Linked DNA regions of Homo sapiens: regions 2, 3 and 4 are each linked to region 1. The links come from fine-mapping of genetic effects on gene expression. A gene starts in region 1. Each other region holds a variant in brackets. All regions are shown on one strand. Distances are from middle to middle.

The links. PIP is the estimated chance that this variant, and not a neighbour inherited with it, causes the effect. A credible set is the group of variants that fine-mapping cannot tell apart.
Region 2: its variant is the best candidate, but not a certain one, in a credible set for the expression of TEX2 in pancreas (GTEx, PIP 0.80).
Region 3: its variant is the best candidate, but not a certain one, in a credible set for the expression of TEX2 in liver (GTEx, PIP 0.58).
Region 4: its variant is the best candidate, but not a certain one, in a credible set for the expression of TEX2 in whole blood (TOPMed, PIP 0.70).

What each region holds. Positions count from the first base shown.
Region 1 is chr17:64,262,037-64,264,782 of GRCh38, reverse strand. TEX2 (testis expressed 2) reads left to right here and starts at 1,523. Exons shown (of 12, transcript NM_001288732.2): 1 at 1,523-1,615. RefSeq lists a silencer at 1,326-1,935.
Region 2 is chr17:64,134,533-64,137,032 of GRCh38, reverse strand. No RefSeq gene overlaps it. Among named protein-coding and RNA genes, the nearest start is that of ERN1, 5.6 kb to the right of the region's middle. The variant G/A (reference allele first, on the strand shown) is at 1,557.
Region 3 is chr17:64,186,032-64,188,777 of GRCh38, reverse strand. TEX2 (testis expressed 2) reads left to right here. Exons shown (of 12, transcript NM_001288732.2): 5 at 363-610. Among named protein-coding and RNA genes, the nearest start is that of SNORA50C, 41 kb to the right of the region's middle. The variant C/G (reference allele first, on the strand shown) is at 1,329.
Region 4 is chr17:64,179,802-64,182,547 of GRCh38, reverse strand. The region is part of intron 5 of TEX2 (testis expressed 2); the gene reads left to right. Among named protein-coding and RNA genes, the nearest start is that of SNORA50C, 35 kb to the right of the region's middle. The variant C/T (reference allele first, on the strand shown) is at 1,599.

The sequences.
Region 1 (2,746 bases):
CACTCAGTTCTTGGCATGACTTATTCTGTTATGAGTGTCTTAGTAGGTGACCTCCTCCCTTACTAGCAAGTCTCCCAACCATATTACTAATTCTGAGGATGAAAGGAGTTTGGCTTTCATTTTGCCAATTGAATTTGAATTTCATGACTATGATAGACTCAAAACACGCACCTGAGTGTGGTCCTTGTACCACTTGCATTAGAATCACCTGGAGGGAGGGGTGTCGAAGGCCATCTCAGACTTACTGAATTACAGGTTCTGGGGTGGGACTTAGAGATCTTCATGTTAAAACCCTCCAGGATGATCTGACGTTGAAGATCTGACATTTGGGACCCACTAATGCAGGAGACACACTGACACATCTGTTTGTTGTCTTGGTCCTTTCTTGTGGTGGGTGGGAAGTGCAGAGGGGCAAGGACTACGGGGGAAGGGGGAACTCTCCCTATGTGCCAGTGCTTCTGCCAGCCAACCCAGGTTCGCAGAAGATAAATGCACAATGGGCATTGCCATCCCAGGAAGCTCATTCTAAGTGAGAATTTACCTCGAGAAGTCACTTTACCTCTCTGAGCCTCAGATATTGCCTCTCTAAAAATGAGTAGTTAATACTATATAAGTTCTAAGCTCTAAGAACTCGTGGCCAGGCGCGGTGGCTCACGCCTGTAATCCCAGTACTTTGGGAGGCTGGGTCCGGCGGATCACGAGGTCAAGAGACCGAGACCATCCTGGCCAACATGGTGAAACCCCGTCTCTACTAAAAATACAAAAATTAGCTGGGCATGGTGGCACGCGCCTGTAATCCCAGCTACTCGGAAGGCTGAGGCAGGAGAATCGCTTTAACCCAGGAGGCGGAGGTTGCAGTGAGCCCAGATGACGGCACTGCACTCCAGCCTGGCGACAGAGCGAGACTCCGTCTCAAACAAAAAAACTAGTAACAGAGTTAGTTCAGGATAGGATGTGGTAGTGTGGTAGTCAGGTGGGGGAAGTACATAATGCGGGAAACTGGGAATTTGCCTTTTTAAATCAATGTCTGCAGTTGGATGGGGATAGATACGTCTGATGGCCCTCTAAAATGCAAATCGAGTGAATTTGCCCAGGGGGATACCCCTGGTTCTCCGCGCCTCAGTCACCCCACCTCAACCCCCAGCCCTCGTCTCAAGGGCACTTGTTGCTGCTAGACTGCAGGAAGAGGAAATTAAGAAGTGCAAAGAGCTGGGGACAGTGTGCAGCCCCGTTGGGAGAGTGAAGCTTTTGTCCCCCTCACCTGGGGCTCTTCCAGGTAACCCTCCCCACCACTCCTCTCCCTAGCTCCAAGGGCGGTGGCCCCTTTAACAGACCTGACAAATCGCTCCCCCATTTCCGCGGCCTCACCTCGGCGCGCGGTAGAACTGGATTGGTTGGGCCTGGCGTGCCGTTTGCTCCGCCCCCGCGCCCTCTGGTTGGCGGCGGCGGCCGCGGGCGCGGGGCGGGTCCGCCGGCGGGGCGGGGCGGCGTGTGCCCGGGGGCGGGCGGGCGGCAGGGCAGCAGGACCGCGGCCGGTGCCCCAGCCGAAGCCGGAGTCGCGCGGCCGGGAGCACGGGCGCCGGCATAGTACAATGAGGCAGCCAGCGGATCTTGGGTGAGCAGTCTCAGGGCCAGGCGGGGGCGGTGGAGGGAGCGCCCCGCGGATAAGGCCCGGGCTGGGCGCGGATCGACCCCGCGGGCTTCAAAGTACCGGTCGGGTCCGGCGGCCCTTGGCGTGGCGGGGCTCGGCCCCCCACCCCGCTGTCATGGTTCAGGTATTGAAGGGGACGCCCACCCGCGACACCCCCGGGCAATCCCTTCCTTCGGGGCCCCGCCGGATGGCTCGGGCTCGACTCCGGCGGGAGGAGCTGCCGGCCCCGTCCCCTCAGCCTGCGGTCCCCGGCCCCGGGCAGGGAGGCACCGTCACGCGCAAACTAGAGGAAAACGGCTTGCAATTTTATGAATGGGGCCCCGGGTTCCTGCCGCCCCCCTCACCGGCGACGCGAAATGCTTGAAAGTCGAGAACCGCAGTTACTTTTACTCGAATCTGTCAGAGGTTGTATGCGCCCCGGTGGTTTTTCTCCAACTCCTGGAGAACGCGGGTGGCGGTGGGGTGGTTTGTGTGCTTTAGCAGGGAGGCGGCGGCGTGCCGAAATCCGGGGGATCGGAAGGTTAACAAGTGACATTGGGCTGAGGCCTAGCGCCAGGTGCCTTGCGGGGAGGCGGTGTGGCCGTGGACGCCGTCGCTGCTGGCTGCTGAGCACGGAAACCATACGGTGGAACCGGAGAAGGCGGGGAACGGCTGGCCACATTGCACCACACGCTGCCTAGAGCGTACGGCTGCCATGGGAGTTGGTGCAGGGGAGTCTTCCCCTTTTGAAAACGATTTTTGGAAAACTTAGCCCCTCAGTGGGTTGATAGTTACTTAAACCATCGGTTGTTATGGTTACTGGGCGTCAAATGTAAGGGCAAAGTCTGTTTCCACCCTCGCTCTTTCTCCAGAGCTATGAAGTACTTTGTCACTGTGTTTTACAGACACTGTCCAGGGAGGACATCCTTTTTTAGAGTTGAGGGAAAATTGTGGGCTCCTTGAGGGCAGGGCTCGTGCCACGTTCACGTTTGAAGTGCCAGCGTCTTCACACCATCACCGCTCTGCACATGCATTAAAAGGAATGAGGCTTTTACATGTTTTGAGGATTCTCAGAGGATTCAGAGGAGTCATTTCAGGAGCCAGGTGTAAGCTGGA
Region 2 (2,500 bases), 130 kb after region 1:
TTATTATTATTATTATTATTATTATTATTATTATTTTTAGATGAAGTTTTGCTCTTGTCGCCCAGGCTGGAGTGCAATGGCATGATCTCAGCTAACTGCAACCTCTGCCTCCTGGGGTTCAAGTGATTCTCCTGCCTCAGTCTCCCAAGTAGCTGGTACTAAAGGCATCTGCCACCACACCCAGCTAATTTTTGTATTTTTAACAGAGACAGGGTTTCACCATGTTGGCCAGGCTGGTCTCAAACTCCTGACCTCAGGTGATCTGCCTGCCTCGGCCTCCCAAAGTGCTGGGATCACAAGCGTGAGCCACCACACCAGGCCTTCACCATCAGTCTTGTACCTTGGTTATTTCTGTGCATGTCCTGTATCAACCTGAAAATTCTCTAATATTTCCTTATGGCACTAATCCCTGGTACTTGGAAGCCTTCAGTGATTTTTGTTGAATGAATGCATTGTAGTTATCCATGTAGAGGTCAAAGATGAAGTCATCTGCGAAATGAAGCTGACTACATTATGGCTAAAGTGCCTTTCTGCTCTAAAATTTGGTATATAAAAGGCCGGGCGCGGTGGCTCATGCCTGTAATCCCAGCACTTTGGGAGGCTGAGGCGGGTGGATCATGACGTCAGGAGTTCAAGACCAGCCTGGCCAAGATGGTGAAACCCCGCCTCTACTAAAAATACAAAAAATTAGCCAGGCTTGGTGGCAGGCACCTGTAATCCCAGCTACCTGGGAGGCTGAGGCAGAGAATTGCTTGAACCCGGGAGGCAGAGGTTGCAGTGAGCCAAGATCACGCCACTGCACTCTAGCCTGGGCGACAGAAAGACTCTGTCTCAAAAATAAATAATAAAATAAAATAAAATTTGGTATATAAAATATGTTAAATGAGTCCTCCTAGGAAGAAAGGAAAGAGAAAATAGATAAGGTCTACATATTAAGCCTCAAGCAATGTACTGGCTGGCCACAGGGGCTCATGCCTGTAATTCCAACACTTTTTTTTTTTTTTTTTTTTTGAGACAGAGTCTTGCTCTATCGCCCAGGCTGGAGTGCACTGGCACGATCTCGGCTCACTGCAATCTCTGCCTCTGGGGTCCAAGTGATTCTTCTGCCTCAGCCTCCCGAGTAGCTGGGACTACAAGCACGTGCCACCACGCCCGGCTAATTTTTGTATTTTAAGTAGAGATGGGGTTTCACCATATTGGCCAGGCTGGTCTCGAACTCCTGACCTCCTGATCCGCCCTCCCTGGCCTCCCAAAGTGCTGGGATTACAGGCGTGAGCCACCGCACCAGGCCAAATCCCAGCACTCTGGGAGGCTTAGGCAGGCTGATTGCTTGAGCTCATGAGTTTGAGACCAGCCTGGGCAACAAAGTGAGACCCACTCGCCTGGCATCTACAAAATATAAAAAAATTAGCTGGGTGTGATGGTGCCTGTCTGTGGTCCCAGCTACTCCAGAGGCCGAGAAGAGAGGATGGTATGCCCCTGGAGGTTTCAGCCTGGGAGGCAGAGGTTGCAGTGAGCCTAGATCACACCACTGCACTCTAGCCTGGGCAATAGAC[G/A]CAGACCCTGACTCAAACCCCGTCCCTACCCCCACCCCCTGCCCCCCAAATAAACCACACAGAATCTGGAAGGAGGAAAAAAAGCAGAGACACAGGAGGAAAGCCAGAAAATGGTAATATCCAAGGAGGAAAAGTTCAAGAGAAAAGAACCCTTAATATACCTGAATTGAAAAGAGGCCCGGTGGCTGGGGGGAAAAAAACAAACCCAGGAATTAGGTCCAAAGGGATTTTACAAGAGGAAGAATGTTTATGAAGTGCTTGAGAGAAGTTTCCAGAGAGTTCTGTGGAATTAAGCCAGACCTCAGGGGATTAGGACGGCCTGGCCAGTGAGGAAGTGGAGGTACTTTGAGAGATGGCCGTTTCCATCTTGGTGCTGCCTTGGCCCTTTGAGAATATTAATGTATATAAACTGGGGACACGGATACTTTCTGTGGCGGTGTATAGACTTGGCACAAATGCGTGTGAAATACAACACCCAGAGACAAGTGAACAAATAACCAGTCAGGATTAGCCTAAGCTACCCCACAGGGTAGAACCTGGGAGTGGGGTGGTGAGTGATAGGTAGCGGGGCAGAGGCCTTGTCTCTTAAAATTAAATAACATCCACTACATCAGGCAAAGGTCATGGTCTTAGAGTAAAGATAAGACAAGATGATACCATAAAGCATGTAGTTGCACATTTCCAAACAGCAAACAGCCAATAAAAAAGATAATAAGAAATAATCACTTTTTACTCCTTATGGTATAATGTGAAAAAAAAGAAATAATCACTTTTGCAACCTAAGAAAGTGTGTAGTGAGTGGGATTCTGTGGTAAAGGGAAGTTCTTAAACAAGTGTCACAATCTTTTCAAATCCAGTCATCCTAGAACAGGAAAAGCCAAAGTCCTATTTACCTAAAAACCAAAGTGTTCACAGTGAGAACAACTTTTAAAATGTCCCTTAAA
Region 3 (2,746 bases), 76 kb after region 1:
GTGGCATGATCTTGGCTCACTGCAAGCTCCACCTCCTGGGTTCACACCATTCTCCTGCCTCAGCCTCCCGAGTAGCTGAGACTACCGGCGCCCACCACCACGCCCGGCTAATTTTTTGTATTTTTAGTAGAGATGGGGTTTCACTGTGTTAGCCAGGATGGTCTCGATCTCCTGACCTCGTGATCCGCCCGCCTCGGCCTCTCAAAGTGCTGGGATTACAGGCGTGAGCCACCATGCCCAGCCCCTTATAAATATTTTTAAACAGTCATTTGATAGCATTGTAGCTGCTTTTCTCAGGGAGTCCGCTTACTTTGCAGTTGTTTTCTTCATTGTGTGAATAGCCCCCGTCTTCTTGGCTCCAGGGCTTTTGCCTGCACACAGCAGACACAACAGTCCGTCCGGGCACCTGACCCACAGCCGCAGCAGCAGCAAAGGCAGTGTGGAGGAGATCATGTCACAGCCAAAGCAGAAGGAGCTGGCAGGCAGCGTGCGGCAGAAGATGCTTCTCGACTACAGCGTGTACATGGGCAGGTGTGTCCCCCAGGAAAGCCGAAGCCCCCAGAGGAGCCCCCTGCAGAGTGCGGAGAGCAGCCCCACAGCTGGGAAGAAGGTAAAGCTGGCTGCTGGGCCGGACCTTTTTCACTTTTCGACTTAGACACATTTCTTCATGCGTAAGTGCTCCGAAGCCCTGTTGTGGGCACTGGGATAACAGTGGTACACAAGACAGAGAAGGACCCTGCCTTTGGGGAACTTGTAATCTACTCAGGAAGACAGCAAGAAACAAGCACCAGGTGGTGGGAAGAATGAAAATAAAGTCAGACAAGGGAGGAGGGGAAGTGGCCAGAACTGCTATTTTATTTATTTATGTATTTATTTATTTTTAATTTTAAAAAGTTTGTACTGTTTTTCTCTGCTATTTTGGATGGGTGGTCAGGAAGGGCCTCTTTGAGGAGGTGACTTTTGGGCACAGACCTGTTGGTCACGGGGGAGTGAGCCATGGTGATGGGTGTGGGAGGAGCACTCCAGGTGGGAAAAGCAGCAACCCAAGGGCCCGCTGTAGGCATGTGCTTGGAATATTCGAGGAACAGCAAGGAGGCCTGGCCGGACAGTGAGCAAGGGAAATGGGGAGGTAGGGAGGCTGGAGGATCAGGATGGGAGGCCATGGGAGGGTTTTGAGCAGGGTATGATGTTGACTGATCTAAGTATAAAAAGATAAGTGGCTCTTGGTGGAGAACTGGCTGTAGAGGGAAAAAAGGAGTGGGAGGTGACTGTCATAGTGAAGGCTGGATCAATGTGAAGGTAGTGACAGTAGGTGGTGAGGAGAGGCT[C/G]GGCTGGGGTGTGCTTGGCAGGAGGCGCTGGCTGGATTTGCTGACGTGAGAGAACGCAGAGGCCAAGATTTGCACTTTGACCTGAGCAACTGGATGATCACTAGGGGTTGTTGCAGAATCACTGGTGATTCAGGTCTCATTCCTCCAAAACCATTGTATTTTCAAATTCTCAGTCTCCTCGGCTATGCCCAGTGCTTTTGAAGATTTACCATGAACATTCTTTACAAAGTGTAACCGGACACGGACTTAGGATCATCTCTGATAAGATAACTCCTGTAAGCTGCCAGATGCCAGGCTCTGTTAGGCACTTTAATAGAATTACTCTGCTCTCTTGAACAGTCCTGCAAACTAGACAGGATTGTCTCCATTTTGTAAGCGGAGAAACTGAGGCTTGATGAAGTTAGGTAGCCTAGTCACACAGTTGCTAAGTGATGGAGTGTGCAAACCTCACCTGAGAACCCAGGGGCCCCTTGGCTCGCTGAGACTATTTTGCTGGGTTATTCTGAAAGCCTGCTTGGCCTGAGGCCTCCTGCCTCTACTTTGCACACTCTTCAGAGTCACAGTCTCTGCCTGGGGGACACTTAACCTCTCTTTCATATCCAGGTGTTTGACCTCTTTTTTTTTGAGACAAGGTCTCGCAGTGTCACCCAGGCTGGAGTGCAGTGTCGTGAACATGGCTCATTGCAACCTCGACCTCCTGGGCTCAAGTGATCCTCTCACCCTCCTGGGCTCAGCCTCCCAAGTAGCTGGAGCTACAGGTGTGTGCCACCATGCCCAGCTAATTTTTGTATTTTTTGTAGAGATGGGGTTTCACCATGTTGCCCAGTCTGGTCTTGAACTCCTGAGCTCAAGAGATGCACCTGCCTCGGCCTCCCAAAGTGCTGAGATTACAGGCGTGAGCCACCGCCCTTGGCTGTGTTTGACCTCTTACAATGACCATGTGTATTTCTGTTCTTAATGAGAAGCAAGCCATTGCTCTTGATCCGTTGATCCTCTTCAGTGTGGAAGAGGTCACTCACCTGATCTGTTTGAATTTGTCAGGGCAATAAAAGACCATATGCCTCTGCTGGCCTGCGACCCACTACCTCTGCACTGAGTCACCCCAGCTTTAGTGGGAAGCAGACCTCCCTCTAGGCAAGAGTGGGGTGATATAAAACTTTTCTACAAATGGTCCTGTTTACCACTGGTGAGTTTCCCCTCCCTCCAAATGCGAGGCTGTCAGCTGTCTGGACTCTCATCAGACTCAAGAAAATCAAGAGGAGAATTGTGCACTGACGTTAAGAAAATTATCCAATAAAATGCTTCCTTTTGAAAGATTTCCCCAAATTAAAAAACAAACCTGATTTTAGAGCTTTGTTTCCTTGGTTTGTGTTACATGTGCATATTGTATGCTATGTTCACTGGGGTCCCTGATGTCA
Region 4 (2,746 bases), 82 kb after region 1:
TGATAGCTACACAACTCTCAATATACTGAAAACTATTGAATGTACTCTATTTTTAAAAATTATTTTTGTGGTAAAATACATAAAGTTTGCCATCTTAATCATTTTAAAATGTATAGTTCAGTAGAATTGAATACATTCATAATGTTATGCATTGACCCCCACCATTCTCTTCAACTTGTATAATTGAAACTCTATACTCATTAAACAGTAACTCCCCTGTCCCCCTCCTCCCAGCCCCTGGCAACCACCATTCCCTGTCTCTCGGATTTTGACTATCCTAAGTACCTCATATAAGTAGAATTATACAGTATTTGTCTTTTTGTGACTGACTTATTTCACTTAGCCTAATGACCTCAAGATTCATCCATGTGGTAGCGTAAGTCAGAATCGCCTTCCTTTTTGAGGCTGAATCATGCTCCATTGTGTACGTACGCCATTTTGCTTATCCATTCCTCCATCGGTGGGTGCTTGGCTTGCTTCCACATTTTAGCTATTGTGAATGATGCTGCTCTGAACATCAGTGTACACATATCTTGTTTTGAGACCCTGCTTTCAAATTTGTTGGGGTATATAGCCAGAAGTGAAATTAGTGCATCTTAAGGGTAATTCTGTTTAAATTGTTTAAGGAACCGCAATACTGTTTTCCACAGCAGCTATGGAAGGATGGAAAAATTGTATGATCTATGAATTATATCTAAGTAAAACTGTAAAAAAAAAAAAAAATACAAAACCAGCCGGGCATGGTGGCTCACACCTGTAATCTCAGCACTTTGGGAGGCCGAGGCAGGCAGATCACCTGAGGTTGGGAGTTTGAGACCAGCCTGACTACCATGGAGAAGCCCCGTCTGTACTAAAAATACAAAAAATTAGCCAGGCGTGGTGGTGAATGCCTGTAATACCAGCTACTTGGGAGGCTGAGGTAGCCTCCCTTGAACCTGGGAGGCGGAGTTTGCAGTGAGTCGAGATCGCGCCACTGCACTCCAGCCTGGGCGACAGAGCGAGACTCCTTCTCAAAGAATACAAAACCATGTAGCCAGATCTAATTTTGCTTTTTTTTTTTTTTTTTTTTTTTTTTGAGATAGCCTTGCTCTGTGGCCAGGGTGGAGTACAGTGGCACGGTCTCGGCCCACTGCAACCTCTGCCTCCTGGGCTCAAGCGATTCTCCTGCCTCAGCCTCCTGAGTAGCTGGGACTATAGGCACGCACCACCACACCCAGCTAATTTTTGTATTTTTGGTAGAGACGGGACTTCACCATGTTGGCCAAGATTGTCTCAATCTCTTGACTGCGTGATTTGCCCGCCTTGGCCTCCCAAAGTGCTGGGATTACAGGCATGAACCACCACGCCCGGCCTAATTTTGCTTTTTAAAAGTTCTGTATTCTTAAATGTATATATACACTGAAAAGAGACTGAAAGAAAATATAGTAAAACTGTTTTAAATAATGTTTAAAATGTTTTAAATCTGAGTAGCAGGTTTATGGGTGTTTTCTGCAGTGAATATGCATTGTTTTTATAATCAAGGGAAAGAAACACACAGGAGTAGGGTCCTCCGCTGTGTCATCTCCTGGACCACACTGTCCCTTGTGCAACCCCCCTGG[C/T]GGTACACTGGGTGCGGCCAAAAAGGAGTGGGGGCACTACACACTCTTTGTAATAGAAAAACTGGGCTGGCCTCCTGGCCATTTGTAATAGGAAATGTTACACCACAGACTTCAGTAAATCTGTCCTACTTTAGTTTTAGAGGTTAGTTTTAAATAACACATATCCCAAGAGTGACGCAGTTTTGATGGGCTTGCTTCAGCTTCAAACCATTGAATTTTCTCTACACTTATTTGGAAGCCATTTTTGGAAAGTTACCATTTCTTAGTGTGTTTATACAGTTGAGACAGCGAAATGAATATCCTCCACACATTTCATCCTATAGCCAAATGGCAATATTAGGAAATGTATGCACATTGTTTCTTTAAACTCTTAAATTTTTATGACATTCGTTGGGCCTTCCTAGCAGGCTGTTGAATCCAGGTTTTGCTCATAAAAGCTTCTTTGATGCATTATCGATGTTCTGCTCTGGAATTTTTCTTTGTTCCCAATGAGTCTGTGGAGAGAAGCTTATTTTGGAAAAAGGAACTGTTGAAAAAACAACCTGCTTGTCGGTTATTTCAGAAATTTGTTTACCACATCATATGCCATTGGCTTGGACATACATTGTGAAATAGCCTTTGTTTCTTGCTATTTTGTGCTAAAACTGTTTCCTGTGAGTAACTAGGGTTGTAAAGAAAGGCTAATAAAGGGTAGATGCTCCCTCTAGGGAAGGGAAAAAGTAACTTATTCTCTTGTATAACCTACAAATCTAAAATAAGACACGTGGTGTCTTACGTGGGCAGCAACTTAGTACTGTCTGAGGGGCCAGGTGGTCATTGCCCTTGGATGAGTGTTTATGCAGAAGTCTGTATAAATAATCGGATGGGACTCAAAGACAGTAACCTCAGAAAAGCTGAATGAATTACCCTTGGGGCTGGGAAGGAGATGTTCAGTCAGAGAAAAAAGGGATTCAAAAAAACAGTGCAAGTTATGGCATGGCCAAGCATTCACCGCTGCAGACTCTTGCCCTTCCATCCAGGACCTAGTGGTGGAAAATGTCTTGGTTAATGACAGAAAACGTCACAGCACTCGAAAAGCCCAGAGAGAATAATCCATGTCCATTAAGAAGGGTGAAGCAGATCCATGTCTTCTGAAATGGGCTGACCAG